2 separate regions of the Homo sapiens genome follow, and region 1 is linked to region 2. Evidence: fine-mapped expression QTL. A gene starts in region 2. The other region holds a variant in brackets. All regions are shown on one strand. Distances are from middle to middle. Region 1 overlaps DCDC1 (doublecortin domain containing 1). Region 2 holds the start of DCDC1 (doublecortin domain containing 1).

The links. PIP is the estimated chance that this variant, and not a neighbour inherited with it, causes the effect.
Region 1: its variant is the best candidate, but not a certain one, in a credible set for the expression of DCDC1 in hepatocyte-like cells (PhLiPS, PIP 0.55).

The regions. Positions count from the first base shown.
Region 1 is chr11:30,985,659-31,001,317 of GRCh38, reverse strand. The region is part of intron 20 of DCDC1 (doublecortin domain containing 1); the gene reads left to right. Among named protein-coding and RNA genes, the nearest start is that of LINC02859, 260 kb to the right of the region's middle. The variant G/A (reference allele first, on the strand shown) is at 7,368.
Region 2 is chr11:31,361,200-31,376,858 of GRCh38, reverse strand. It overlaps DCDC1 (doublecortin domain containing 1), which reads left to right and starts at 7,120. Exons shown (of 39, transcript NM_001387274.1): 1 at 7,120-7,162. It overlaps DNAJC24 (DnaJ heat shock protein family (Hsp40) member C24), which reads right to left and starts at 6,999. Exons shown (of 5, transcript NM_181706.5): 1 at 6,947-6,999; 2 at 6,000-6,143. The coding sequence starts at 6,110. RefSeq lists an enhancer at 6,707-7,186.

The DNA of each region.
Region 1 (15,659 bases), 380 kb after region 2:
TTCATGGCAAAATAACTTTGGAAAATCCACTTAATATGGTTTATAAGCCTTTCAAAATGCCTTTACTTGACAATTTTAGCATTGAAAAAATAATGATAATAATGAATTATAGTTCATTGAACAAAATAAGAATCCATGAGTCAATACTGACACAAATAAATGACTGAATAAATAAAAGATGAACAAGAGGAGCTCTTTCTTATGGTGGAATTCCAACTAATGCCAACTAATAGATGTTGAATGAATTAGTTAGAAAAATCATAATTTCACAGCTGTTATGGTAATAATTGACTCAAGCAAGAACCATCAATGGATGTTAATACTAACTGATGAAAATTTGCTAAGGATCAGCATATATACAGTCTCAAGTTATCTCTTTACAAATTTGTATATACATGTATATATAATTATATGTGATTGAATCTGGGTGAAGGGTATATGGGACTTTTTTTTCTTTTTCTAACTTTTCTGAAAGTTTGAAATTATATCAAAAATAAATAAGTAGCAAAAAAGTAAAATTTACATACTCTTGGTTTTCTTCCTAAGTAATTGGAACATGGCTCAGTCCTGGACATGCTTTTTTTTTTAAACATAGTATTAGAAAAAAAACAATGCATTATGCTACCCAGAAGCTTGACTCACCAGCTGCCAACAAAGCTTCATTAATGTAGCATGTTCTGCAATCAAAACCCTCTCTCTTGGGAAGAGTGACATCCTGAATATTTGCCTTTCACAGAGACTCACTTAGAGACTTGCAATCCATAAGGATTTCTAAGTGGAATGTGAGTATCTGCATGTGTAGCTCCCTGACACATTTTATAGTACCCTTTAACTTTACAGAAAAGGGCTCTGAAATTTAGAAAATGAAGGCTTGCAATTCTTTCTATGTCATTCTTAATAAGCTTGCTTTCAAGAAGTAGAAGGCAAAGAATCCTCCTCCTCTAAGACCGTATTGTGGAGTCATAGCAGCCCTGATAATTGCTTAAATGAGAAGAGGAGACTAAATATTATAATAAAGATTGCAAACAGTGTTGAAGACAATTATACTGAATTCTTTCCTGGATATTTTTGGTATTCATTTGATATAGGGCATTGTGACGCTTGAATGAATGGATTTATAATTTAACCTAAAAGTTAGAATTAAGCAATTCAATGTTTGTCTGAAGGAAGATTCATTACTCTTAACCAGATGATTTTTTAGATGCCCTAATATGCTTCTTCCTGCAGTAATCCCTTGGTGTTTCCCTTGCAACTGACAATGGACCCGACTGCTCCTCCACAGCCAGCACAGATGGTTCCTCTTACCTGAAGCCACTGGCTTTGACCGACCTTTTCTTTCTGGTTGGTGACTAAAGGAGATAGTTGACTTCATTCTTAAAGGGGAGAACGAGTCAAGTCACAAGTCTCAGTTCTCTTTGCAATTTGATCTCCCTTACCAATGCTGTGAGATGGTCTCCAGTGTGCTCCTAAGATTGCCAACAAATATTTTATTTTATTTGACGTTTGTATTTTTGGTATATATTTTACATTAAAAATATTTTGAGGTTTATATTTTCTTAAAAATATAAGCTCTCCCCTTTCTCACTCCCCCCACCCTTTTTAAGATGGAAGTGATGTGTAAGAGTCGCATTGTCCAAACTCCTTATTTTGATGATTAGAAAACTGAATCCAAAGAATCCCTAAGTTCCTGGGGATCATGCTTTTTGGTGAAGCTGGAATTTGGACCAAAGGTTTCAGATTTCCAGGCTGGCATTACGTTCACATGTTGCCACTTTTATAATAGTCAAGAATCTTAAATTTATTGAAAATTCTTGGAAAACAAAAGCATAATAATTTTTAAGTAGAATACATAAGGAAATTAGATTCGACATAAGGCTTTTACTATTTTTTCATTTTGAAATAATTTTTGATTTACAGAAGAATTGTAAAGGTAGTATAGAGAGTTCCTACAGCTCTTTCACTCAATTTCCTCTAAAGCTAACATCTTACATAACCAACATCTTACATAACCATGATACATTTATCAGAACTAATAAATCAGAGTTGGTACAATAGTATTAACCAAACTAAAGACTTATAAGGTTTCATCAGTTTTTCCACTGATGTTACCTTTTCTTTTCCCAGGTTTAATCCAGGATACCACACTGCCTTCAGTAGTTGTGTCTCGTTAGTCTCCTCTAATCTATGACAGTTTCCCAAAATGTCCTCATTTTTCATAGCCTTGACCCTTCTGAATAGTGGCCAGATATTTTTTAGAATGTTCCTGAATTGGGATTTGGAAAGAATTTATAAAATTAGACTGAAATTATTGATTTTGGAGGAAAATACCACAGAAGTAATATTCTCTTTTTATTGCATTATATCAGGGGGTGCATGATATCAATATTACATATTCCTGGTGATGTTAACCTTGATCACTTGGTTAAGATGGTGTCTGCCAGATTTCTCCACTGTCAAGTAACTGTTTTTTCCTTCTGTACTCTATTTGCTAGAAGCAAATAGTTCAGCCCACACTCAGGGAGGGAGGAATTAAGCTCTTACCTCCTAGAGGGAGGACCATTAAAAAATTTGTGGACATAGTTTGGACATCACAATAATTAATAAATATTTGAGGGGAGATACCATAAGTTTGAGCAAATATCCAATTTCTCCCAAAAGTTCTGCCCACTAATTTAGCATTCATTAATGCGTTTTGTCTGTAGCATTTATAGCTATGATGTTCTAATGGTGATTTGTTATTTCTGTCATTTTTAAAACATTTACTAATTGGAATTCTTTTGCAAGGAAAATATATCCATTCTTTCATTCTTCCTCATTTACTTATTTATTAAACTTATTGTTTATATGGACTGATGGATATTTACTTTATTCTTTGGGTGACAATTTAATACTATCATTATTTATTTTTGCTCAGATTGTTTCAGCATTAGCCATTGGAAACTTCTTCATGTTGGTTCCTGCTGTGTCTTTTCAACAGGCACCATACTTCCTCCCCCCTCCCCACTTTTTAATTTTTATTTTATTTTGAGTCCAGGTTTCATTCTATTGCCCAGGCTGGAGTGCAGTGGCACAATCATGGCTCACTGCAGCTTTGAATTCCTGGGCTCAAGTGATTCTCCCATCTCAGCCCCCTGAGTAGCTAGGACTACAGTTGCATGCAACACTGGACTAATTTTTTTATTTTTTGTAGAGGTGGGGGTCTCACTATGTTGCCCAGACTGGTCTCGACCTCCTGGGGTCAAGCAATCCTCCTGCCTCGACCTTCCAAAGTGCTGGCATTACAGACATGAGCCACTGTGCCTGCCCCCACCCCCTTTCTTTTTAAACTCTCTCTTACTTTGTGACACTACAACACAATCAAAGTTCATCTTGTGGTTCCTTGCTGCAATATAGAATCAGCTATTTTGTTCAGAAGTCTTAATCTCCTTATTGGAGATGGGGAGAAGGCTATTTAGAAACCAAGGTCTGGATGCTAGTGTGTGTACACACACACACACACACACACATACACACTATGGTATGGTAAAATAAACATGAGTTTATTCTGATATGTTTGATTGTAATCCAGCACCATGGGTTCATTCTAACATTCCTGTCTTGGTTATTGGTAAGGTCATTTGTAACTTTTTTCTCTGATAGCGAGAAGCCAGGCTCCTATCATCTGTATCCCTTTTTTGTTCAATTTTAGTATAAATATAAAAAAGAGTGTCAGAATAACCAAACTGTACTACTAGGAGAAACAAATTTAACAGCTGGCATACAATACTTATATACAATTCTTTTTGTCTTTGTCTTTTTATCTAGGTATGGCCTTTCAATATCTAGACAAAATACTTGTTTTCCAGTTACTAGATTAGCGCTTTTCTTCCTTACCCCTTCAGTGAGGTTATGTTGTATATTTATTGTACACTTAGATTGATTTGTCAAAAGCTGTATTTCATTTTGATTCCCCCAAATCCTGATTTTGTTTTGTTTTGTTTTACTTTGCAGACAGTAAAAGCCACTCTTCAGCATACAGTTCTATGAGTTTTGACAAATGCATAGTCATGTATTTACCACTCCAGTATCATAAAGAACAGTTTGATTACCCTGAAATATTTCCTTGCATGTTGCCTTTGTAATCAATCTCTATCCTCTACCCCTGTCTCTGGCAACTACTTATCACTTTCTGTCCCTACAGCTTTTCCTTTTACATAATGTCATTCAAAATGGAATCATAAAATACATAGCCTTTTAGGCCTGGCTTTTTTTCTCAAATAGCTAATGCATTTAAGATTCATGTATATTGCTGTGTGCAACAGCTCATTCCTTTATATTGTTAAATAGCATTCCACTATATGGATATATCAAAATTTATGTGTTCAACTGTTGAAAGGCATCTTAGTTGTTTTCAATATTTGGTGATGATGAACGCTGCTATACATGTTCATGTACGTTTTTATGCGAACAAAATTTTCTGTTCATGTGAGAAAATACCTAGCAGTGTGATTGCTGGACCATGTGTGTCTTAGTTCATTTTGTGAAGCTCTAACAAAATACCTGAGACTGAGTAATTCTTAAAGAACAGAAATTTATTTTCTCACAGCTTCAGAGGCAGGGAAGTCCAAGATCAAGGCACCAGCATGTTTGGTTGTCAAGTGAAGGCTGCTCTTTTCTTCCAAGACTGTGCCTTGGTGCTGCATCCCACATAGGGAAGGAATGTTGTGTCCCCGCAAGGCAGAATACAGAAAGGGCAAAAGGGATGAACTCCCTTTGTCACGCCCTTTTATAAGAGCATCTAATTCCATTCATGAGTGCAGAGCATTCATAACTGCATCACCTACCAAAGGTCACACTTCCCAATACTCTTGCACTGGGGATTAAGTCTCAATATGATTTTTGAAGGGCCAAAAACATCCAAACCATAGCATATTGTGTGTGTTTGACTTTATAAATATGTACCAAGCTGTTTCTGATGTGGCTGTACCATTTTATATTCTCATCAAAAATGAATGAAAGCTCCTGTTGCTCTGCATCCTCTATAGCCCTTGGTATCAGCAGGGTTTGGGGTTTGTTTTTGTTTCATTTTGCTTTCTCTTTGCCATTCTAATAGATGTGTGGTGATCGTTCATTATGGTTTTAATTTTCAATTTACTAATGACTAATGATGTTATACCTCTTTTCCTGTGCTTTGTGCCATCTGTCTATCTTCTTTCGGTGATGGGTCTGTTCAGATCATTTGCCCTTTTTAAAATTGGGTTGTTTCTTATTGCTGAATTTTAGAGTTCATTATACATAGTGGAGACAAGTCATTTATCAGATACATGATTTACAAATATTTTTTCCTAGTCTGTGTCTTCTCTTTCATTTTCTTAAGTGCTTACACAGAGCAAACGTTTTTAATTTTGATAACGTCTAATTTAAATTTTGTTTCTTTATGGATGATCGTGCTGATTGTGCCTTTGGGGATGTATCTAAAATCTCATGGCCAAACTCCTATTATTTTCTAGATGTTTTAAGAGTTTTATATTTTGCCATTAAGTCTGTGATCCATTTTGGTTTACTTTTTTTGTATAAGGTATGAGGTATTTATCAAGGTTCTTTTTGGTTTTTGTCTTATTTTTTGTTTTGCTTCATAGAGACATCCACTTGGTTCAGCACTATTTGCTGAAAGACAATTCTTTCTCAATTAGTTGCTTTTCTACCTATGTCAAAAGTCAGTTGACTATGTTTCTGTGGGCCTATTTCTGGGCTCTCTCTTTTGCTCCATTGATTTTTATTTCTATCCTTGCACTAATACCACACTACGTTGATCATGTAACTCCATAGCAAGACCTGGAATTGGGTAGTGTGAGTCTTCTACCATTGTTCTTTTTCAGAATTACTTGGCAATTCTAATTGCTTTTGACCCTCCATATAACTTTTAGAACCAGCTTGTCGAAATCTACAAAAGAGTTTGCTGGGATTTTTATTGGAATTACATTGAATCTATAGATCAAATTGGAAATAATTGTCATTAATATCTTAATGATATTAAGTTTTCCAGTTCATGAATATGGTGTATTTATTTATTTAGATCTTTGATTTTTAAATCAGTGTTTGTAGTTTTTACCACGTAGATACTGCACACATTTTAAAAAGACTTATACCTAAGTGCTTTATCTTAATATTTTGTGTAAATGTAAATGTGATGTTTTGAGATTTAGTTTCAAATTTTATTTCTTTCATTGCGGGTATATAGAAATACATTGATCTTGTAGCTCACAACCTTGTTAAACCTTCTTACTAACTCTAGGATTTTTATTGCACTTTTTTTTAAAGATAATCATATTGTCTGTGAATCAGGACTCTTATATTTCTTTCTTCCCAGCCTGTATGCCTTTCATTTCTTCTTTTTATTCCTCCCCTTAGTGTATTGCCAAGGATTTCTGGGACCATGATTAATAGCAGTAGTAAGAAATGAAATCTTTGTCTTACTCTTGATTTTAGGGGGAAACATTCAGTCTCTCACCATTGAGTATGATGTCAGCTGTAGGGTATACATATATATTTATTATAATAAATATTATAATAAACAAATATATTATATATTTATTAAATAAATATATAATATATTATAACATATACTATATGTTATATATTATAACAATAATATGTTATATATTATATATTATATAATAATATGTTATATATTATAATAAATATATAAATAATTTATATATATAGATAAATTACAGGTGTGAGCCACCCCACCTAGACGTTTTTACCCTTACAAAGGGCATATATACATATACATATATATATATATAACTTGAGGTCAGGAGATCAAGACCAGCCTGGGCAACATGGTGAAACTCCATCTCTGCTAAAAATACAAAAGTTAGCCTGGCATGGTCGTGGGTACCTGTAGTTTCAACTACTTGGGAGGCTGAGGCATGAGAAATACTTGAACCTGGGAGGCAGAGGTTGCAGTGAGTGGAGATTGTGCCACTGCACTGGGTTACTGAGTGAGTCTCCGGAAAGAAAAAAATGGGTAAAAAAGTTTCATTCTATTCCTGGTTTGCTGTAAATTTTTATTACGAATGCATTTAGAATTTTGTTGGATAATTTTTCTGCATCTATTGAGATCATTACATGATTTTCCTATTTAGTCTATGGTAAGTATGGTATGTTACATTAATTGATTTTCAAATATTGAACAATCTTGCATTGTTATAATGAATCTCACTTGGTCGTATGATGTTTCATTCCTTTTTTATATTGCTGGATCTAATTTGGTAATATTTTGCTGAAGCTTTTTGTATCTATGTCCATGAGGAATATTGATCTGTAGTTTTCTATTCTTGATAGAGCTTTAGCTGGGTTTAATATTGGGATAATGCTGGCTC[G/A]TAAAATGAGTTGGGAAGTTTTCTCTCCTCTTCTATGTTCTGGTATAAACTATATAGCATTGGTATTATTCTTTATTAACTGTTTGGTAGAACTTGACAATACACTTCTTTGAGCCTGTACTTTTCTGTTCTGGAAAAATTTTGACTACAAATGTAACGTCTTGAATACACCTATTAAAACTACATATTTCTTCTTGGAAAGAGATTTGTAGTTCTTGTCTTTCAAATAGTTGTTATATTTTAATTTGTCATATATATGGGCATAGAGTTGTTGGTAGTATTCACTTATTATACTTTCACTGTGTATGCGATTGATCTAGTGATGTCTTGTTTTTCATTTCTGATATCAGTTATTATTGTCTTGTTTTTCTCTATGTCAGTCTAGCTAGAGGTTTATCAATTTTAGAAATAGTTTTTCATTCATTGATTTTCTCTGTTGTTCATTGGTTTTCAATTTCATTGACCTATGCTCTAACCTTTATTATTTCTTTCTTTTTGCTTGCTTGATGCTTAATTTGCTTCTCTTTCTCTAGTTTCTTAAGGCAGAAGCTTAGATTACAGATTTTACATCTTTATTCTTTAGTAATATAAAATTTAATGCTGTTAATTTCCTTCAAAGTAGTGCTATAACACGGGCAATCTCTGAATTTTGATGTTGTATTTTCACTTTCATTTAGTTAGCTTATAAAAAGCTACATTAACTTAAATTAAAAGTATTTTATTTCAGAATATTTAAAAATTTTGACACTTCCTCTTTGATCCAGGGGTTATTTAGAAGTAAATTACACATAGTATTTTGAAGAAGTAGGATTTAACATAAGTTTTCAACATTTGCTATATGCTAGAAAAGTAATTTTTATATAATTTTTTTTCATGTGGAGTGCCATTTTACTTTTTTAAATTAAGTAAATATTAAAATTTAGGAAAGTTAAGCCTAATTTATGATTGAAAATCAAAATTAACTTGGTTGGTCTCAAATCTCTTATGAAATATGCAAAGTGCATTGAGTTTACCACAAGCTGTACAATATACTTGTTGGATCGACTTCAGTACCCACCTTCTTCATAGAATATAACACACAAAAACAAATTTCCTCTACTTTTATTTTAGATTTTTTAATATCAAGACTAATATTGACAGTCAGGAAGTAGTAACTTTTCCTGAAATACTACACATTGTCTTACAAATAGCTTATACCAGATGTCTAGACTTTGGACTTTGTTTCTTCAGTTTACATAGTGGTTGAAAATTTAACTATTCCTTTAGCTTTGTGTCTCTCAGTACCATCATGGCCTCTCCATGTATCTTTACAGTATACCTTCTGAGACCTGCTGAGGATATGACTCAGCAAATCACCATGGTGATGGGAGAAAGCCAGGTTGTGGGGGCACCAGCTATAACGGGGTAATACTTGGAAGGCAATTTCTTTCTGAGAACTTGCTGCAGCCTAGCTTGGAGTCCTGGCCTGGAAAGCTTGAATATGAAAAGTCAGGTTGGTATCTATCTTTGGCAGGACTGCCTCACTGGGTCTGGGTTTAAATAACTCCTTGGAAGTCAGATCTTTCATTCAGCCGCAGGGAGCTTACCCTGTTAAGTAGCCTGTCTTGGTTTGTCAGTCATTATTTGTTCACTGCAAGGGGTTAACCCTCAGCTACATGGTCACCATTTCAGGATCTTGTTATTTGGAAAGTAGGATTCAGACCTGTAGTTTAACATGTTGATACATTTCTGTTAAGAGAAAAATACAGCATTTCTTTTAAAATGACTTGTTAGCAATTTATAGTTAACATACACTCAAATGAGACCTTATGGGAAGAAGTATGATTTTATTTATGTTTTTCTTAAGGTACCTTAAGACAGTGCATTTTACATTGTACTTTATTTGTGTAACATTTGCTCTTAGAAAGACAGGGAGCGTACCATTTTCATTTTTGGTTTCTCAACAACACAGAAGTGCATGGCACATACTAGGCCTCAAGCACTGCTTGTTGAATGAATATTACATATGTGGGTGAAGTATATGATATTCTTTCTCCTTGTTTTACTTTGATCCTTCATTTTCAGTACATTTAAATTCTTTTCCCAAAAATATTATGAAAGCTGTTTTCTCTTTGTCTTATATGTTCCCAGTGTTTATCTGAAGGAATGCAATTTGCTACCCATGTTACTTAAAAAAATTTACTTGTATGTTTATTGGTAAAATCTTTCATAAATAAACTTATTTTGGTGTTATGCCTACTGAATAATTCCAGAAGTATATATATTTTTTCAAGCTGGAGAAGACAAGAGAAATTAGGGAAGAGACAGCAGAGATCAAATGTGCAGGCTTGTACACCTGGTGTAGTTACGTTTAGAGTAACCACAGAACCTAGTGACGTCGGTGGTGCATGGCATGCCCTAAATAAACATCTAGTTTAAAGTTTCCCAATTTGAGCTGTCCGATCCAGTTGCCACTGAGTTTTCTTTTATGTTACTTAAGAGCCTTACTAATTTTCAGCACCAATACAATTCAGTTTTTAGAATTAGGCAATTAGAATCATGGCATTTTGCTGATTGGGAATACCCAACTAAGCCTGGTGACCTTGCATGGGACCCCTTTGTCTCTGTCTTTTTATTTATTATTATGGTATATGGTTAAGGTGTACACTCTGATGTTTTGATAAATGTATACCTAGTATTACAGTCTATTTCTGGAGTCACACTCACTCCCAGCTATGCTGCCTCTCTCCTCCTTAAGGCAGGCTCTCATAGCCTTCTCTCCTGTCTGCTCTTGAGGTCTTGGGTTCTCATTACAGCTGAACACCTGCTGTTTCAAGCCAGCCTCCTCATGGTTACCAGGGATGTCCCTTAGCCCTCCCTTGGCAAACCCGTTTGTCAGTTGCCTCACTCTCTGGCAGCACCTATTTTTATGCCAGCAATATTACAGCTTTCTCACATCAGCTTTTCCTCGTAACTCTCACTTAAATGTGACTGTATGATACCAGGAAGCTTCCCACCCCAAAATTATTTTGGAATTGCATAATTTCAAGGCTACTGGCCTGGAAAATGTCACAAGAATGGGAAGTTCTCACCCATGTTACTTACTGGAACATAAATGTGCTTCACTGCACTTGCGTGATTAGCGTCAGTGAAACTGTCTATTCATGTCACGTCTTTACTAAATAACTTTAACTACAATTCCACTGTGTAAATAGCCTAGTACAGTTAATCAGAAAAAAACAAACATAGAATTGTATTATAAAACACACGTGCTTTGTTATTAGTGTAAACTAAATGTCTTCAGACCTTACTACCCGAGGTAAAAATAAGGTCACCTAACAAATAGCTGCATTTCCTAATTGCTTCATCTGCACAGCTGCAGCACCTTCACTCTTGTAGATCACCTTTCCTATGTCTCCCTGGTTATTTCTGAGTGTCTCCAGTGTTTCACATCTTGTCTCTTATATTTTTTGGCTGTGGCTTCCTTGCTGAGAGCCCACGACTCATAAAGAAAGTTCTTACCTGTCCTGTGGGTGCCTCCATAACAACATGGGTTTGCTGCTCCTAGGAGCATCTTCCGGTGCATCCCTAACACTACAAATGTCTCAAGATGCAATAAGGTGTCGTGCTTTGTTCAGTCCCCACAGTGATGATTCTGGGTTATGCTCCTGGGAGAGCATATCTTCAAATGAGATCTTACAGGAATAAGAAGAATGTTTTTGTATCTCTCTTAAGGTACCAAATGCATTTTACCTTGCATGCACAAACTCAACTGCATATATATATATATGTTCCACTGTAGTTGACACCCCAACTCTGTGCTGCTTTTGTCACTTAGATTCTGAGGCAGCTCTGATTGTGCCTTTTGTTTTCACAATGTCTCTTGAAAAAGCGTCTTCTTCCCATCTTAGGGTTTCTTTCTTGGCAGGTTTTGGGGCTGACTCGAGTAGAGATACACCATCCTTCACCTTTCCAGTCTAAGTGTTTTGGGCTCACGTATGCACACACACCTGCACACATGACCAGTCACCGCTCACCTCTCCAAATTAAGACACGAGTCTTCCCTGGATTGTCTCTTCCTGTCATTCACAGCAACTTTTGGTAGCCTGAGAGGTTTCTAGTTCAACTTTTTACAAGAACAACCACAAATTGGTTTTATTTTTGGCATCCCACAGCATTCATCTTTTAAAAAATGGCTTCCTAGGTAAAGGTATGAGAAATATCTTGAATGCACAATATTATATATTATTTAAAGAGGATGCTTTCTCCGACTCTATAAATACATTATTGAATGGATTTGAGCAGAAATAATTCACTCTGCCTGGTAGTGCTCCATCTTAGAAAGCACAAATATGCTGGTTTCTAATGTGTAAAGCACAGAAGAGAGAAAAAGCCTAGTTAAATGTACTTTAAATGTCTGTATTTTGATGCAATATGGTTGCATTTCTGTGTGTTAGAGAGTGAGGATAAAGAGGACTACAGATTCTCAGATTTGTTTTTATTTTTCCAAATTCCCAAGGACCATGATAGGGCTCTCAGATTCAACCTGGGAGTCAGTAGAGCAGTCTGTGTTTGTTTGGATTGTCTTGTTCTTCAGGAATATAAATGATCTTGATTTTGGAACATGGTTTCACTCACATTAAATGAAATATTGAAAAATATCTTCTCCCTCTGTACTATGTAAACAGGCTTTACAAAAGTCGTTTCTCTGTTCTGATATTATTTGATCTTACAAAGCATTCCCCTCATTTAACTACTTCCTACTTGTGAAACACTTTCTTCTCTTGATTTCTCTCCATCACTGAACACTCCTTTTCAATCTCTTTTACTGCCCCCCCTCTTATTTTGTCCTAACTCTAAATGTCACGTATGCCAGGGCTGTGTTCTCTGACTTCTATATTACCTCTCCACTTCCTGGATGATCTCATCTACTCCCATGAATTGGAATGCCATAGAAATATCAGTGATTCCCAAATCTGTAGCTCCAGTTTCAACCTCTGCAGATTCATAGATCCATTTTCATGCCAGCCACTTTCATCTGGAGGTGTTACTGGAATTTCTAACCATATGAAGCCATATGAAGCTCATTTGAAGTATTTGGGGCCAGAGGAACAGCTGGTGGAAAGGCTCTAGATCAAGCTTGTCCAACCCATGGCCCATGGGCCACATGTAGCCTACGATGCCTTTGAATGTGACCCAACACAAATTTGTAAACTTTCTTAAAACATTATAAGATTTTTTTGCGTTTTTTTTCTCATCAGTTATCAGCTATCATTAGTGTTAGTGTATTTTATGTGTGGCTCAAGACAATTCTTCTTCCTCCAATGCAGCCCAGGGGAGCCAAAAAATTGGATGCCCCTGCTGTAGATAGAGAAAGGCTTAGTATGTTCTAGAAGCAGAAAGAAAGCTGGGAGGCTGGAGAAGAGTGGGGTGAGGGAAGCAGTTAGATACAGATTAGGAGATTAGGTCACAGAGGTGACCAAATAGAGTGCTTATTTTCCTTTCCCAAACTTACTCCTTACTCCAGTTATCATCATCATCATCCCATTTTTTTTCAAGCTGAATAGCTGGGAATTTTCCCTCTTTTCTTTTTCCTTCACTAGCCCCATCCCAATACCTATTCTATCCCCAAGTTCAATGGATGAATCTGTTCATTTATTTCCATGCCTACATCTTGAGTTTGTCCATTTATTTTGATTTTCACTAAACTGTACTCTCAGGCACCATCATCCATTCTACAGCATTTGGTTCCTAACTGCTCTTTCTGCTTCTACTTTTGCTCTCTACTATTTATTCTCCATCTAGCAGCCAGAGTCATTATTTTTAAATGAAAACCAGATAATTTCACTCTCCTGCTTAGTACTCTTCATTATGTTTAGAATAGAATCTGAACTTCTTATCTTGGCTTGCAAAACACTCCACAGTCTGGCTTCTGCCCACCTCTGTGACCTAATCTCCTGTATCTAACTGCTTCCCTCACCCCACACTGCTCCAGCCTCCCAGCTTTCTTTCTGCTTCTAGAACATACTAAGCCTTTCTCTATCTACAGCAGGGGCATCCAATTTTTTGGCTTCCCTGGGCTGCACTGGAGGAAGAAGAATTGTCTTGAGCCACACATAAAATACACTAACACTAATGATAGCTGATAGCTGATGAGAAAAAAAAATGCAAAAAAACTTATAATGTTTTAAGAAAGTTTACAAATTTGTGTTGGGTCACATTCAAAGGCATCCTAGGCTACATGTGGCCAATGGGCCATGGGTTGGACAAGCTTGATCTAGAGCCTTTCCACCAGCTGTTCCTCTGGCCCCAAATACTTAAAATGAGCTTCATATGGCTCATTTTTTCTTGTCATTCAAATCTCAGCTTAAATATAGCCCTATAAGAGAGGTTTTTCCTGATGACTCCATAAAAATTAGCCATACAGTCCATCTCTATCATGTTGACTTATTTTAACTCTGGATGATGCTATTTTGAGATATTCTTTATTTGTTTATTAATTATAAGCTCCATGATAACAGTAAAAATGTTTGTCTTGTTCATGTCTGTATCCCAAGTGCCCAGAACAGTTTCTGGCATTGTAGATAATTAAGAAATGTTTATCAAATGGCTCAGTTTCATTTGTGGTTTTCTCTCCCTTAAAAACAAAGAAATAGCCTGGGTGCGGTGGCTCACGTCTGTAATCCCAGCACTTTGGGAGGCTGAGGCAGGCAGATCACTTGAGGTCAGGAGTACGAGACCAGCCTGGCCAACATAGGGAAATCCTGCCTCTACTAAAAATACAAAAATTAGCTGGGTGTGATGATGCATGCCTGTAGTCCCAGCTACTTGGGAGGCTGAGGCAGGAGAATCGCCTGAACCCAGGAGGTGGAGGTTGCAGTGAGCCTAGATTATGCTACGGCACTCCAGCCTGGGCAACAGATTGAGATTCCATCTCAAACAAACAAAAACAAATAAACAAGCAAACAAACAAAAACTAATGGCATTCTACTTTTTCGGTTTCTTTTTGTATTTTTCTTAGGGACAGTAGGAGTTATTTTCACTAGGTCACTTCAGAAAGAATACCATTCTCTTTGATGGTATTGTTTAGTGCAATGAGTTCACGTCATGAGCAGAACTGTTTACTCTATTATATTTGGAATTTCCTACATTTGTTACTCTACGTACTTAAATTGTAAGCTTTTTATCTGTTTCTGGAAAAGAAACTACTGATTGTCTACAAATTTTCATTCTTTCTTTCTTTTTAATTATTAAGGGTGGAAACAGGTTAGCCAAAATACTTAACACCCCAGTCTCCAGTACAGATATAATTTGGCTTTAATATAAAAAGTAGAAGTCATTGGCTGGGTGTGGTGGCTCACACCTGTAATCCCAGCACTTTGGGAGGCCGAGGTGGGTGGATCACAAGGTCACGAGATGGAGACCATCCTGACCAACATGGTGAAACCCCGTCTCTACTAAAAATACAAAAATTAGCTGGGCATGGTGGTGTGTGCCTGTAGTCCCAGCTAATTGGGAGGCTGAGGCAGGAGAATCACTTGAACCCAGGAGGCGGAGCTTACAGTGAGCCAGGGTCATGCCACTGCACTCCAGCCTGGCGACAGAGCGAGACTCCATCTCAAAAAAAAAAAAAAAGAGAGAGAGAAAAATGTGGAAGTCATTATGTAAAATCCTTGGGTAAACTACTTGAAAGGTACTGAACAAAGTATTAGGCAGGAAATCTTTTACTATTGCCTTTTTTTTTTCTTGCTGTCTGGGGAGTGAACATGATGGCTGGAGCTGCAGCAATTATTTGTGACCATGAAGCAACCACAGGGAAGGAAAAGATGTAAGAATAGTAGAGAAAGAAGAAGACATGCTTTGGGTTTCTGATGACTAAATAAATGTCATAACAATCTTGGGCTGCCAATCTCTGGATTTATACACTACAGAAAAACATACCTCTATCATGTTTAATCCACCATCATGTGAGTTTTCTGCTAGACGCTGCTGAGCCTAATACTAATTTCTGTCCCCCTCAAAAAAATGGCACTTTTTTGAATGTTAGGAATATCAGGATGTCAATTTTAATATATTGTTTCATAAAGTGTCTTACTATTCATTAAAAAAATTTGTCATAATTTAGTTTTGGAATTTATTTCCATAAATGTTGATTGCCATGTTCTCATGGTCCTCTCTTGATAGAAGCACTGTGGCTTGGGGGAAGGATGTGGACTTTGGAATCAGATGATCATGTGTTTGAAACTAAGCCTCTTCACCTGTGGCAAATTCCTTGATTATCTGGGCCCCACCTTCCTCAGTGCAACTCATATA
Region 2 (15,659 bases):
ATCTAGATCCTTTCAAAATTACAAGACAGTAGTAATTATGTCTGACCTTCCATAATACTTAATTAACTGTGCATAAATGAGGTGTTCTATGGAAATCCAGAAAAAAATAAAAATTATGCCTTTAAACAACAGTAAACCCTTTTAGATGGCAATTATGAGAAGTGTGATATAATGCGAGAGAATCTAGAGTCAGAGGATACATGATCAAGCCTAGATCATAACCCTTACTAATTCTGTGTTTCTGACAAACCACTTAACTGTAAGTAAGCCTTCATTTTCTCAAGTACAAACATAGGGGTAACAAAGCCTATCTTACAGAAGATAAAACCAGATGTGAAAGCATTTGTAAACTGCTAAGTACAATACACGTGCTACTAATTATACACTTACTACTCTATACTTCCTAGCCTTCTTAAACAAAATTAACTGAACATAACTCATGGCCATAATTATGATTATAAATTATTGCGCTGAACTGTAATATAAGGACCACTGATACATCAACCAAGAAAAAAGAAGGGCAAAATGCTATGAGATGGTGTATTAATCCATTTTCACACTGCAGATAAAGATATACCCGGGACTGAGCAATTTATAAAGAAAAACAGGTTTAATGGTTCAAAGTTCCACACGGCTGGGGAGGCCTCGCAATCATGGCAGAAGGCGAAAAGCATGTCTTACATGGCAGCAGGCAAGAGAGAATAAGAGCCAAGCGAAAGGGGAAACCCCTTATAAAATCATCAAATCTTGTGAGACTTATTCACTACCATGAGGAGAACAATATGGGGGAACCCCCTCCTCGCCACCCCATGATTCAATTATCTCCCACTGGGTCCCTCCCACAACACATGGGAACTATGAGAGCTACAATTCAAGATGAGATTTAGGTGGGGACACAGCCAAATTATATCAGATGTATTGTCTCTTGTTGCCTGCTGCCAGGTTGTTAGCTGAGACTTCTTGCTCCCATAGTATACATAGCTATCTACAAGGAGCCTTCCCAGAATAATGCTAGTTGAAATTCTCTCTCCTGTAATTTGCTGCTTCACTTCATCTCTCACCCTTCTCAACAGATAACTTTGTCTTCTACTTCACAGAGAATAAAAAGAAGGTACCAAATGAGAGCTCATCAACTTTCCGCTACCAAACCTACAAATAAACCGGCTATTGCAACTATCTTTTCTTCCTTCCTTCCTTCCTGTAACAATGAAGACAGGTCCCTCCTATCTCTTACCTAAAGCTAATCCTTCTACCTATGATTCAGATCCTATTCCTCTCTGCTTTTGTTAATTATTCAAACTCTCCTATAACTTCAATCTCAAGCTTTTCCGTGGCCACTTCCCATACAGTGTAAACATGTTCAAGTCTCTCTCATCTTCTAAAAGAAAAGCAGAAGAAAAAATTTCAACCTTTTATTACAGTCCACCTACCCTCATTCTCCTTATCTAACAGCTATACCTCCCCTGTCTTAGAGAAATATCATGAAATGTACTAAAGACATGGCAGGGAGCTGGGGAGGCACGATTACAACTAAGATCATTTTGAAACAGTGAGTGAGAATCAGGTGAGGTAGTGGATGGGCAGAGTGCAAGTGCAAAGGCATATGGCCACAGAAGGGTATCTGGCCTCTAAAGGGAAAAGAAAATAGTTCAGGGCTTCCACTAAATGGCAAATTAATTAGAGAGAGGGTCTTGCTCTGTCGCCCAGGCTGGCGTGCAGTGACACAATCATATCTCACTGTAGCCTTGAACTCCTGGGCTCAAGCAATCCTCCTGCTTCAGCCTCACAAGTAGCTAAGATTACAAGTGTGAACCACAGCAACTGGCTCACACTTTCATCCCTCTGAAAATTCCTTGATAGTAACAGAAAAGGAATAATAATTTTTTAAAAAAAGGCATAAATGTGTAAGAACAAACAGGAGAGAAGAGAAAAAAACAGGCAAAAGAACAGGAGAGAAAAGACAGGCAAAAGACACCAAAATTTGAAGAGATGGAAAATTCATCAATAAATGATAACAAATTCAGTGTACCTGCAAAAACTGAAACCTAAGTCTAAAGTGAAAGAGACAAAGAAGTGAGTTCATTCACACAGAGGCAGGAGAAATTGAGGAACGGAAGGCATTAAGTACCTTTGAGAGTGGAGTTGAGGGGCAAAACTAAACAAGAGAAAGACTGGTTAAGACTAAAAAAATGGTTAGCCCTCCACCTCTCTTCCTCACTATAAAGCCAGAAATCACAATTCATTTTATGGGGCTAGCATAACTATGATACTAAATTTAGACATAAACATTACGAGAAAAGAAAATTACAGACAAATATACAGCATGAAATTAAACATAAAAATCCATGACAAAATAATAGCAACTAGAATCCCTCAATGTATAAATATAATAATGCTTCATGATAAGTGGTTTGTTTATCCTAGGGATGAGAAGTGGGTTTAACTTAAGAAAAATCTACGTGATTCACCACATTAACAAATTAAATGAGAAAAATCAATAAATGCAAAAATTCAATAAATGCAAAAAAAAAAAGGATCTAACAAATTTAAATACCTACTTACCATAAAAACTCTTAGCAAAGTATTAATTGGAAGAATTTCCCCAAGCTGATAAAGGGCATCTTTAAAAACATACACCTAACAGCATACTTACTGGTAAAACATTGAAGGTTTTCCTCTTAAAATCAGGAACAAGGCAAGGATACCTGCTCTTAACACTTCAACTGAACATTTTAATAGAAGCAACCAGCTAGTGCCTTAACGTAAGAAAAGGAAATACAAGACATACAGATTGGTAAGACAGAATTAAAACTCTCGTTATCTGCAAATGACATAATTGTGTTGGCAGAAAATTCTAAGAAATTGACAAAAATAGCTATGAAAATTAAAAAGCAAATTTACCTAGATTGTAGGATAAGAGACCAGTATATAAAAATAAGCTATAATTTTATATACTATCAATCAACAAGTGAAAAATGAATTATTTTTTAAAATACCATTTATAATGGAACCAAAAACCAAATACCTAGAAATAAATTCAAGAAAAGATATGTGAGACCTCTACACTGAAAATTATAAAACACTGACGAGAGAAATGAAAGATGGCTTAAGTAAGGAGAAGGATACATGTTCATAGATTCAAAGACTCAATATTATTAAGATGCCATTCTACCAAAGTGGATACCTATTATTGCAATCCCAGTTGAAAACTCAAGCAAGATTTTTTTGGTAGACATTTACAAGCTGATTCTAAAATTTCTGTGGAAATATAAGCAAACTAGAATAACCGAAATAAACTGGAAAAGAAGGATAATATTAGAGAACTAACTTTACAATGACTTTGAGACTGATTATAAATCTACAGTAATCAAGATGGAGGTATTAGTAAAAGGATAAACAACATATAAAACAGAATAGAGTCCAGTAATAGACTCATATTGCCAAGACAGTCCAATGGAGAAAAAAATTTTCAACAAATGATGCTGGCACAACTGAATATACTGAGGAAAAATAAAAACATGACCTCACATCTCATGCTATACACAGAAATCATAAGTCTAAAGGTAAAAGCAAATGACCACTTCTAGAAGAAAACATCGAAGAATATTCTCATAACCTTAGAGAAGATGGAAAGTATTAACTATAAAAACACACATTTGATAAATTATATTTTGTCAAAACAAAAAACTCTGCATCAAAAGACACCATTAAGAAAATGACCTGGTAAATCACAGACTAGGAGAAAATATATACAACATATATACAGAATCAAGAATATATTTAATTTAAAAAAAAACACTTCATAAAAGAAAATTATACAAATGGCCAATTATCACATTAAAAAGGGCTCAACATCATTAGTCATCAGATAAATTTTAAAAAAGCAACAACCCCACAATGGGGTATGACCAGACACTGTAGAGTAGTCCAGTGATTCTCATGGGATGTGGCAATTTTGACATGCAGGCGGCATTTTTGGTTGTTACTGGCATCTAGGATCCTGCCACACATCTTACAAAGCACAGGACAGCCGAAATAACAAAGAATTATCCTGCCCAAAATGTCAATGGTGGCAAAATTGCAAAAACTCCAATAGCCAAAATGAAAGAGACCAATAACATCAAATATTGGCAAAGCTGTAGAGCAACCAGAATTCTCTGATACATTGTTAGCGCATATGTGAAATGATTTACCTACTTTGCTGTTTGACAGATACTACATATTATGTGCAGACTGCTTCTCAGTGGCCAATTAAAGGCCAGCATGGCCTACAAGAACCAGAATGATCCAGTCTACTTTTCCAGGTTCATTTCCCAATTAACTGAGTGAGGTACAAGGATGGTTTAATATTAGGATATTTTTCAATAAAGTCTACTTGATTCTGCTGACAGAAACTTTAAAACTTCTGGGGCAAAAGGTACCTTAAGGTCATTTAGTCCAACATACTACCTAAAGTAAGAATATTAGTACAATCCTGATGATGAAACAGTTAGTCTCTCACAATGAACATTAATAGTTTTGGCAAAACAACACTGATGTAACTGGTATAAACTAAAGAGACAACAAATTCTATATAAATAATGGTTCTTTACTCTTTATAAACTGAGTTAACCGGACGTCGGTATAGAATTACAGACATTGGCTTAAGAAGCATCACAATACAGATTGAAAAAATGAATATAAAAATTCAGAGATATATTTACAAATACTACAATTCATTTAAAAAAAAAAGAGTCGGCCGGGTGCAGTGGCTCATGCCTGTAATACCAGGACTTTGGGAGGCTGAGGCGGGAGGATCACTTGAGGTCAGGTGTTCGAGACCAGCCTGACCAATATGATGAAACCCTGTCTCTACTAAAAATATAAAAATTAGCCAGGCGTGGTGGCATGCGCCTTAATCCCAGCTACTTGGGAGGCTGAGACAGGAGAATCCTTTGAAAGTGGGAGGCGGAGGTTGCAGTGTGCCAAGATCGCACCATTGCACCCTAGCCTGGGCAACAAGAGTAAAACTCCATCTCAAAAAAAAAAAAAAAAAAAAAAAAAAGTCAACTGATAATTAGTGTATAAATGGTCTAAATCAGCATTACCCAATAGAAATATAATGTAAGTATAAATGCCGGCTACATATGCAATGTTAAAAAAGTAAAATGCAAGAGAAACAAACTTTGATATGTGCAAATACATGCATGCATATTATGTATATAAAACACAAAATAGCCAGTAATCCAAAATATCATCATTTCAATATATAATCCACATAAAAACTGTTTGATTATTAACTACAAAGAATTATCAGACAGGGAGTTTAACTGTGATAAGTTTATTAAAGGATATAGTAGAAACAGTGGACAGTATGTATAAAAAGATGAGAAAGAGATAGAAACTTTAAAAAAGGAGCCAGTAGAAATGCTAGATATGAAAATTAGGTAAGAGATCAAGAATTCTTTTAAGAAGTTTATCAGCAGATGGACACAGTAGAGGAAAAATAAAACCAGTGAACTTTAATCAACATAATCAACATAAAAATTGTTAAATTATTTTAATTCCTTTTAAATACTGTCTTTAAAATCCAGTGTATATTTTACCCTTACAGTCCATCTCAAGTCAGGCTAGCCACACTTCAAGTAATCAACAGCCACATGTGGCTAGTAGCTACTGTTGTTTATTATGTAACAACACTTCTAAATATTTTACATGGATTATTTCATTTAATCCTCCCTTGGCACATATAAGAAAAAGTAACTTGTCCAAATTCTCACAGATAAAGATGGACTCAAGATTCTAACTCAAGCAGCCTGACTCAGATCTCCTGCTCCTAACCATGCTTTTCCACCTCAAATCAAGTTTTTCTGCAATATTACTGAAATGTTCAATTAAATCAAATTAATACCTGGATTCCTGCCACTGGTATCCTATTTTCTGGAAACCTAAATTTGTGGTTTCATATAAAAATTGATTTTTTTCCCCTCATGATTTAAAATCTGAAAGAAAAGACTTACCATTAATATGAGTTTTTGATATTTTTGTTTTAGGTCTGATATATTTGCAGATGGGTCTGCTCCCAGGATGCTGTACCAATCCTTTTTTGGCATCTGCTCAACCGCCATCATCCATGGAACCAGAAGTGGGCCTTCTCAGATTAGCTGAATAGAAATATTAATGACAATTCATCACAGTTTGCCATGTATCTAAGAAAAAATTAAGTACTGCCCTTGTAAATTCTTTAGTATTTAGTCGAGTAAATCATGATTATAATGCAAACCTGAGGAAGCACAGATTTTCATTTAAAATGCCCCAAGAATTCCAGGTATAAGTGTACCGACAAGTATGGAAAACGTGTTAGGTATTTCACGATATATATTTATACTTTAATTAATGAACAGCATTAAAAAAAAGAATTTTATAATGAACCAGGTGGTGTATGAACCTCTAAGAAGGTATTTCTGCTAGTCTTATGATAAAACTGGCACACAAGTAAGCACCCACTAAACACGCTGGAGGAGCTTAATGAATATTTACAAAATGAACGAATAAAAAAAAAGCAAAACAGAACATCAAAGAATTAAAATAAATTTGGGGGCATTCCTTCTGAAAGTTTCTCGTTTGCTTTTCCTCCAGATTGTCTGGAGAGCATGATATGGGAAATAACGTCAGCACCAGCTGGTAGAGAACAAGAGTCCCCTGTTATTGGAGAGGCGCTGAGACCTCGCAAAGACAGAGTGAAACTCTCTACGCGAGGATGCCCCAGTCTTCCACGCTCCAGAAGAGAGACCCTACCAGGAGCCCCAGAAATCAGGCAACCTCTTCCCACAGCTATATACACTTAACGAAACAGCCGGGGCCTCCTCAAGCTCGGGACTTGGGAATCTTCTCCATTCACAGTCGGCTTTACCCACCCAGCCATTGGCGGGCACCCTCTCCGCGCTTTATACGACATCAGACCTACCTAACTTCACATAGGCGCTGCTACCCACTCCTCGCCTGCTGTCGGCCAGAACTCCGGACCGGCTTCTTCTTCCGCCGGAAGTCACTGTTCCGACGTGTTCGCGTTTCTGGCCGAGCTGATGTGGCCGTGGCACAGCTCAGAAGCGACGCTCCGCCCACCCCGACGCGGTCTCTATGGTAACCGGTCACCGCTTCTATGGAGTGGCGTTTACTACCAGTAAGTTCCCAAACTGTGAAGAAAGGCGCCTTTGGCTTCGCTCTAAGTCTCTCTTTTCCGGGCCCCGCGACTGTCGCTTCTCTCCTCCTCCTCAGCGAGCACCCCCTCGCCATCCCAGGCTTTCCCCGCCTTTTTCAAAGCTTCCTCCGTTTACCGTACCCTGAGCTACTCTCAATCTTTTCGGTTGGTGCTTGAACTCTGGGGTGAGAGAGGGGTGCGGGGGCAAGGATGTGAGAAGGATGAGGAGACCTGATGCCACTCTCGTCCCTACAGTTCCTTTACAATGTTCTAATTCGAAAATTAAAAGAACTAAAACCTATGCCAGGTAGGGCTAGATGTGCGGGGGATGGGGTCGGTTTAATTTTTTCTGCAGAAGATATTCGACGTAATTATTAATATTTCTTTTAGACCTTAGCAACCAACTTACAACATAAAAACGTTCCAAAATTCTTTCACATTTGCTATTTCACTTCGCTTTCATTTCAACCCAGTGAGACAAGTAAGGCAGGTGCCATTATTCCCACTTTATAGATGAGGAAAGAAATCAAGGATCAAGGCCAAACAGCTAGTTGGGTAGGGGCAGAACAAGGACTCAGCAAGTCTACACATTCCCAGGGCAGCTATGCTATCTTTCAAGCTTACAGAAAAAAGCAGAATGAACTGTTCTTCTTCGAAGCAGTTAGGGGGCACTGCATATGGGCACTGTTGGGGTTTGTTATTGTTGCTGGTGGTGGTGGTGGTGGTGGTGGTGGTGTTTTTCTCACCTTTCTTTCTTCTCCCTTTCTTGATTCCTGTGTTTCCTTTTATTACTTCTTTGTGCTGCTTACTTTACATTAACACCTCTTCCTAGCATTGTACCTGGAGATGAAAACTACATCTTATTTTTGGCCAGCATGACATAAATTTCACTTGGAGATGTTAAAATGGTTTTGTTGTTACTGCTTTGATTTTGCTTTCCTTCTTTTTTAAACTTCTACCAATCTGAGTTTGAGAAGCAGTCAAGATAAACTTAAGCAGAATAAATAAAATAATCTAATATGATCAGTTATTTAATGATGTTATGAACTATAAAGAATAACTGAATGAAACAAGCAAGTTTAAAAATCTAAAGATGAAAGCATAGATTAGGTTCTCCACAGGGTTTTGTCATGTTTAAAGGCAGATACAAAGAGCATCTGGTTTTAGTCCTGGCTGCATCATACTTTCTTGTGTGGCCTCATGAAAATACCTAAAGCAATGGAATTAAGTAGTGTGGTGAATGCTTTTCTAAACAGTACTGTCAGAATGATGCCACCTTGAACATCTCTAGCCCTCAAACTCCCTTCTGTCCACAGCTTGGTTCTTCCTTGTGTAGGTAGATATGCTCCGGTACTCCAGGTTTTTTGTTTTTTACAGCAAAAGCATTTTATTTTGATTTACTATTTATTAGGTTATTGTGTTACCTTATTTATTTATTGGGGTTTGGAAAGTAAGAAATAGTTTTTTTCCCCAGCAATACCAAATATTTTGTCATTTCATCTCTACATACTTTAGTTTGCATCCCTAAAATGTACCAACTTTTTCTTTTATCTCCATAATGTCATTATTGGACTGTCACATAATATCTAGACCTTACTTACATTTCCACGGTTAATTGAAAATGTCTTTTTCTGGTTGGTTTGCTTGACTCAGAATCAGACAAAATGTACACTTTCCATTTAGCTGTTCTGTCTCTTAAATATCTTTTAAATTATAGCAGTCCCATTTCTTCACTAGAACCTTGTTTTTTTCTTTACTTGCCATTGGCTTACTGAATGAGAACAGTTGTCTTACACTCTGCTTATACCAAAATAAACTTCTTAAAACAATTTTTACATAAATTTCTGATCATTAAGCTTCCTTCATTTTTCATTTTATAGAGCAGTACTTTCCAATAGAAATATAATGTAAGCCGTAAGTGCAAGCTACAAAATTAATTAATCTAAAAATTATTAAGGCGATACTTTACATTCTTTTCTCCTACTAAGTCTTCAAAAGCTGGTATGTATTGTGCCCGAACACACCTCAATTTGAACTAGCACATTTCAAATGCTCAGTAGCCACATGTGACTAGTGGCTACTGTATCCAGCAGGGCAGGTCTAGAGAATAAAGTCCTAACTCCTTAACCTAGCATTCAAGTTACCTCTTCAATATGATCCTTACTTTTCCAACCTCCCCTATTATCTCCATACATTAAACATTTAAACAATTGGATCTTTTCATGGTACTGAAATCAACCCAACAGTCCCATAGACAGGGTTTTGTTTGTTTGTTTAGTTTTGTTTATTGGGGTTTTTTAAATTAATAAACATAGAAATGGACACTTCTTTTCTGAAAGCTTGAAACTTGCATTTGTTTTATCTTTTTGTTTGCTTGTTTGAGACAGAGTCTTGCCCTGGTGTCCAGTCTGGAGTGCAGTGGCATGATCTCAGCTCACTGCAGCCTCTACCTCCCAGGCTCAAGTCATCTGCCCACCTCAGATTCCCAAGTAGTTGGGACCACAGGTGCATGCCACTATGCCTGGCTAATGTTTGTATTTTTTTTTGTAGAGATGGAGTTTCACCATGTTGGCCAGGCTGGTCTGGAACTCTTGAGCTCAAGCAATCTGCCTGCCTCAGCCTCCCAAAGTGCTGAGATTACAGGCATGCGCCACTGCGCCCAGCCACATTTTGTTGATCTTTATCTCAGTTCCTTCCTCAAGAAAGGATGCCCAGACCTCTCAACAAGTATCAAAGAGCTGAAACTCACCAGATTACTGCATCTAGACAGTGATATGCCAGACCCCTCATTCTTCGTTATTGTTTCCTTACCCTTCCTTAGTTCCTGTTTTCTCATACGTAGTTAACATTTCTTCCCTGTTATATAAACCCCTAATTTTAGTCAGTGAGGAAGGTGAATTTGACACTGATGTCCCATCTCCTTGGCTGCAGCATCTGATTAAAGCCTTCTTCTTTGACAATAATCATTGTCTCAGTGATTGACTTTTTGGGTGGTAAGCAGCAAGACATAGATGGAACTCCTGGTGTTTTGGTAACAGCATTTCATCAATAATTGTGTTCAAATGCTTCTCCTTACTTATAACACCCTAATTCTTTTCTTCCTCCTATCAGAGTAATCCCTGCTTTAAGGCCTATCTCTTCCATCAAGCCTTTTATGATGGCCTGGTCCTTAGAACTTACTGCCGCCCCTCAACTTTCATAGCAAGTCCTTTGTATATCACAGTATATTGTTTTCCTTAGAATATATTCTGATTCCCCAGTTGGGTTGCAAGCTTTCTGAGAGCAAGAACACCTCTCCAGAGAAACTAAGAACCAGCTATCTTGCCTCATTCTCTGGAGTTCTAATGATACATAGCTCTAATAGTTTTGTTTCTCAGTATCTTATATTTAAAAGGCAATTTATCCATTTTATGTGAAACTTACATAGTGGAAATATAAACTATGTTAGTATCATGGTTAAAAGCATGAACTCTAGAGTCAGAACATATGTGTTTAGTCCAGGCTTTTCCTCTTACGGCTATGTGAACTTAATTCATCTCTTTGCTTTGGTTTCTTCCTCTGTAATATGGGAGTAATAATAGTATTTCCCTCATAGATTTGTTGTGGGAATTAAATGAGATAGTTGTGCCTGAAAGTAATAAGTATTCAGTAAAGGTTAGCTATTGTTGTTATTATTAATTAATAATATTTGTTGCACATTTGATATATTAGAATGTTGGACATTCATAACAGTATTTTAGGAATTTCCAAAGAGAGCAAATGACAGCAAGAAACAATTGAATTGGAAAAATAAAATCAAACCCAAATATTTGTTGAACTGTACATTTGGTTGGACTTCAGAATAAATTAAAAGGATAGGCAAAACTTTAGTTTGCGTCATCAGCATCTAACATAACCAAGGTAGGCGTATATTAAATATTTGATTCCCAGATGATTGATCAAGTGCTATAGATGTAGCTAGATACATCAGGAGTTTAAGATCCTTTGTCATGATGATAGGAAAAAATGACATTGTTATTAAATCTATCACTTTGGTACACGCCTGCCCGTAAACTAACGTCTACCAGACATTCACAAATTCTTAATTTGATGTCATACTAGTCAATTGTGCTTCTCATTGATGGATAATAATGGAAATCTATATCTATATTATATAGATGTATACATATAGTGTACTTCTGCTAATTATTTCCTATTCAGGATTATATTTACTTGGCTCTTTTGGTAGTTCCATCACCAACTATTCCTTCATTTCCTTGATTTTTATTTCTGAATTTTAGGATTTTTATACCAGTGAACTAAGCTGTATTTAAGTACCATGGGATATGATGGTTATGTTCCAAAATTGAATGATTGTCTCTAGAGCAACTTATAATCTACTGGGAAGATAGAAAAACCACCAAAAACTAGCTAGTTATTTGATTTTTAAAAGTCAATGATATATATACAGCCTTCATTCACCTATTGACTCAATCGACAAATATTTGTTGAGTGTCTCTTATGTACCCCACACTCCGTTAGTTACAAGAGACACAAAACAAAGTTGACTGTAGTCCTGTCAAAAGCTTAGTTTATCTGGGTAAACAGACATTTAAAAAGGAACTGAAATAACTGTAGGAAGTACTATGCCAGAGGAAATACCAGGTGCTGTGACATTAATTAATAACTTGCAGGTATACTAATACGTAGAATAGATTACTTGAATGATTAAAATCCTTGAATCAAGATGAAGCTAATCCAGGAAGATGTATGAAATGTTAAGTTTTAAATAGTGTTTTGAAGGAAGGGAGAGGTGAATGACTAGGATGAAAGAAACTTCCTTTCTTCTTTTTTTTTTTTTTGACAGATTAACATAAAGCTTTAGATAGTATTGAGAATCAGCTCTAATGAATAATCCTAGCTCATCTTTTAGAAATGGTTTTCATTTTTCCCTTTGTTGGTTGTCTTAACTCAGTCTATTATCTGCTTTGCCATTTTGACAATAGTCATCATCGATGAACTTTCGTTGAGTTTGTGCAAGGCAGTACACTAAGCAGGAGAGAAAGAGGAAGAGGTAAATATTTTTTGCGGGCACCGCACTTGTTGCTGTGTTTTTCTTGTTTTTTAGCATTATGTGTCAGTTCTTTCTAACTTTTTTCAGACCTCTTATAGGTCTTTATCTTATCTGAGATTTATGTTCCTGTTTTCCTATCTTCACATCTAATGTTTTAATCATTCCATGAGCCTATTAAAAATATTGTCTGTAATCCATCTTCTATTTATCTTTAATAGTCATACAAATACCAACTTGTTTTTTCCCCCATTCACTTGTTTGCCCTTTTCTCTTTTTTCTTATCACCACTCTGGTTTTTCTATGCACTTTCCAACTACACTGAAATTTGTGGTGATCTCTTCCAGTCATGTGGGGATATGCATTTATATACAGAAGCTCCTTGACATGTGATGGGATTATCTCTGATAAGCCCATTTTAAGTTGAAAATATTATTAGTGCCTTAATACATCTAGCCTACTGCACATCATAGCTTAACATAGCCTACTTTAATTGTGCTCAGAACACTTTCTTTAGCCTACAGTTGGGCAAAATCATGTAGCACACACTACACCATAGAGTATTGGTTGTTTACCCTCAGAGAGTGCATGGTTCACTGGCAGCTGCTGCTCCCTGCCACTGCCCAGCATCATGAGAAATTATTTTACTAACTATCACTAGCCTGGGAAGAGATCAAAATTCAAAGTATGGCTTCTTCTGAATATGTATTCAGTAGAATACACACCATGTAAAGTCAAAAAATTGTTAATCAAACCATCCTAAGTCAGGTACTGGCTGTACTGTTTTTTAAAGCATGCTACTTTCTCTATTTTAGTTTTTTAATCCTGAATTTTTTTCGAAAAGTTTATTTTTGTCATGTAATTGACTTACAGAAGAAAGGTTAATCTGAATGATCAAGGGGTGTTAATTTGTGGGTTAAAATGTGTTAAACAGTTGATTTGAAGTCTGTTTAAGTCAATTAGAGAGTATAATGAAGATGTTTCCAGGGTGTTATGGAACCTTTTGAAGTTAAGTGTGGAATTCACTAGTGTATATTAACTATGGCACCTGGCTAAACATGTTATTGCATTCAGGTTTTTTAATTTGTGTGAATTCTAATAGGTATGAATGGGTCAACATACATAGAAGTTTGACTTTATTAATGAGCCTCATCTTTTGTAATAGGAAATTAAATTCATGACTTAATTCATCATTAGCAATGGAAAACATAATTAGTATCATTGTTATCTTTGTTACTTGCATATTTTTCTAAAATATAAGGCAATAACTCTTGTTTTAAAATAAGATTAGTGTCATTATTATAGGTTTTTAAATGCTAAGTATCTCATATGGAAGAGTAGAATTCATAAAGACATATAAAATGTTGTGTGCTCACTTAAAGAAATGATTTATTTCCTCCCCTAAAATTACATGAAGTAAAATTATGAGACATGTTAGTGTTGGTTAATATTTTCAAATATTTCAAAATAGTTAATATATAATTACACACAGTTTAATATTACTATGCTCAAATTCAGTCATTGAATATAATTTTTGTATGATGGTAGCATTATTTAAGATGATTAAGCATTACAACTTCAACAGTTTAAATCCACAAGAGATATGAAAGTAAAAATCAGATTTTAAAATACATTCTTCATTTAGCATCAGGGTTACTATAGTCTGTTTTTTATTACTTATGTCAGTTTACTAGTAATAAACACATTTAGCATTTCAGCTTCTTGCAACCTTTCAGTTTAATTAGTTAGAGACTGAGAAAAACAGGTCTTGTATGCTAAAGGGATTTCTGCAATGATGGATTAAATGCCAAAATAATGAAACCACACATCTTAAAAAATATACTGAAGAATAGATGTTTTCTGATGAATTTCCACAAAATATCATATTTTTAAAATACTTTCAGCAATTCATAGTATTACTTTTTAATCTACTGTAGAAGCACCATGACTCTAGTCTTTTGTAGCTCATTAGCAATTTCTTTAATGAGTTTTTTGGTGTGATAGATAGTTAAAGTAACAGACAAATGACAGATTGTTTGCCTTTAATGATTTCCCTGTTTCAAGCCCATTACAAAGCAATTAGAAATCTGACAGCATTTTCACTCTGCATTACTGATCGTCTGAAGTGATGAGGAATGAGAGGTGGTGAATATTAATTGTATATTTTCATATGATTATCATAAATTACTACCTTGTCTGATGTGCTGCAGGTGAAGCGGGAGCATTAGAGAAAGGCAGTCAGATACATTAATTTCAAACACTGTATGTTTTTTTAAAAAATCTTTGTAGTATAAATCCTAGTCTGCAATGTTAGTCTCTATGAATATTCCTCTATCACTATTAAATTAACTGTTTTTAGTTTCTATCTATATTTGGGACAACTGAAGTTTTCTTATTTGAATACAAGAAAAGGAAAGGTTATTCCATAGTACAGTGTACCTGTATCTATTTAAATTTAGAATCTTAAAAATCTGTGAATTTTGTTGATTTATATATTACATATATATACATAATATTCAGAAATTTCAGTATAGAGAAAGATACTCTTAGAAATAGGTCATAGTTTAGCGTTAGGCTAAAGTCAGGTAATCCTGCAAAAGAAGAGGTAGGAAAGTGTAGCCAAATGTAGAATGAGATATTTCTAGGCCCTCTGTAACAGTTCTTTTGATCTTAGCCCACAATATATCCTGTTTTTCTAGTTTCTTGCCTCAGGTAGATGTAGCTAAGACTGTCATCAGGATGCAAGTGCTGTTGTTACTTAGTTCCTGCGTTGGATTTGGAGCAAATGCTGGTCCAGAAACTAGATACAGTAAGAATTAGCAAGCCTAGAGCATTTTAAATGATTAGGGGCTGGGTGCGCTGGCTCACGCCTGTAATCCCAGCACTTTGGGAGGCTGAGGTGGGTGGATCACTCGAGGTCAGGAGTTTGAGACCAGCCTGGCCAACATGGTGAAACCACATCTCTACTAAAAATACAAAAATTAGCCGGGTGTGGTGGTGCATGCCTGTAGTGCCAGCTACTCAGAGGCTGAGGCAGGAGAATGGCTTGAACCTGGGAGGCAGAGGTTGCAGTGAGTTGAGATCACACCACTGCACTCCAGCCTGGGCAACAGGGCAAGACTCTTGTCTTAAAAAAAAAGATGAGAAATATATTTGGTTCAATTTTACTAACGTAAATTAGTTTATATTTTACTGTCTCTCTAAAGATAGGTATTGGTAATCGACATGTAATGAGTTGAGTTGAATTTCTTTGTGCTAATGAGGCTGTGTCTTCATTCAGTCCTTCCTTTTGGACCTTTTTGCTCTGGTTTTATCTGTGGAATTCCATCCCTTGCAGATGCATGCCATCTTGGATCCATCTTTATGGATCTTTATTTATGAAGAAGGTAATATGATTATAAATCAATAAAATGGATTTTTTACATGCTA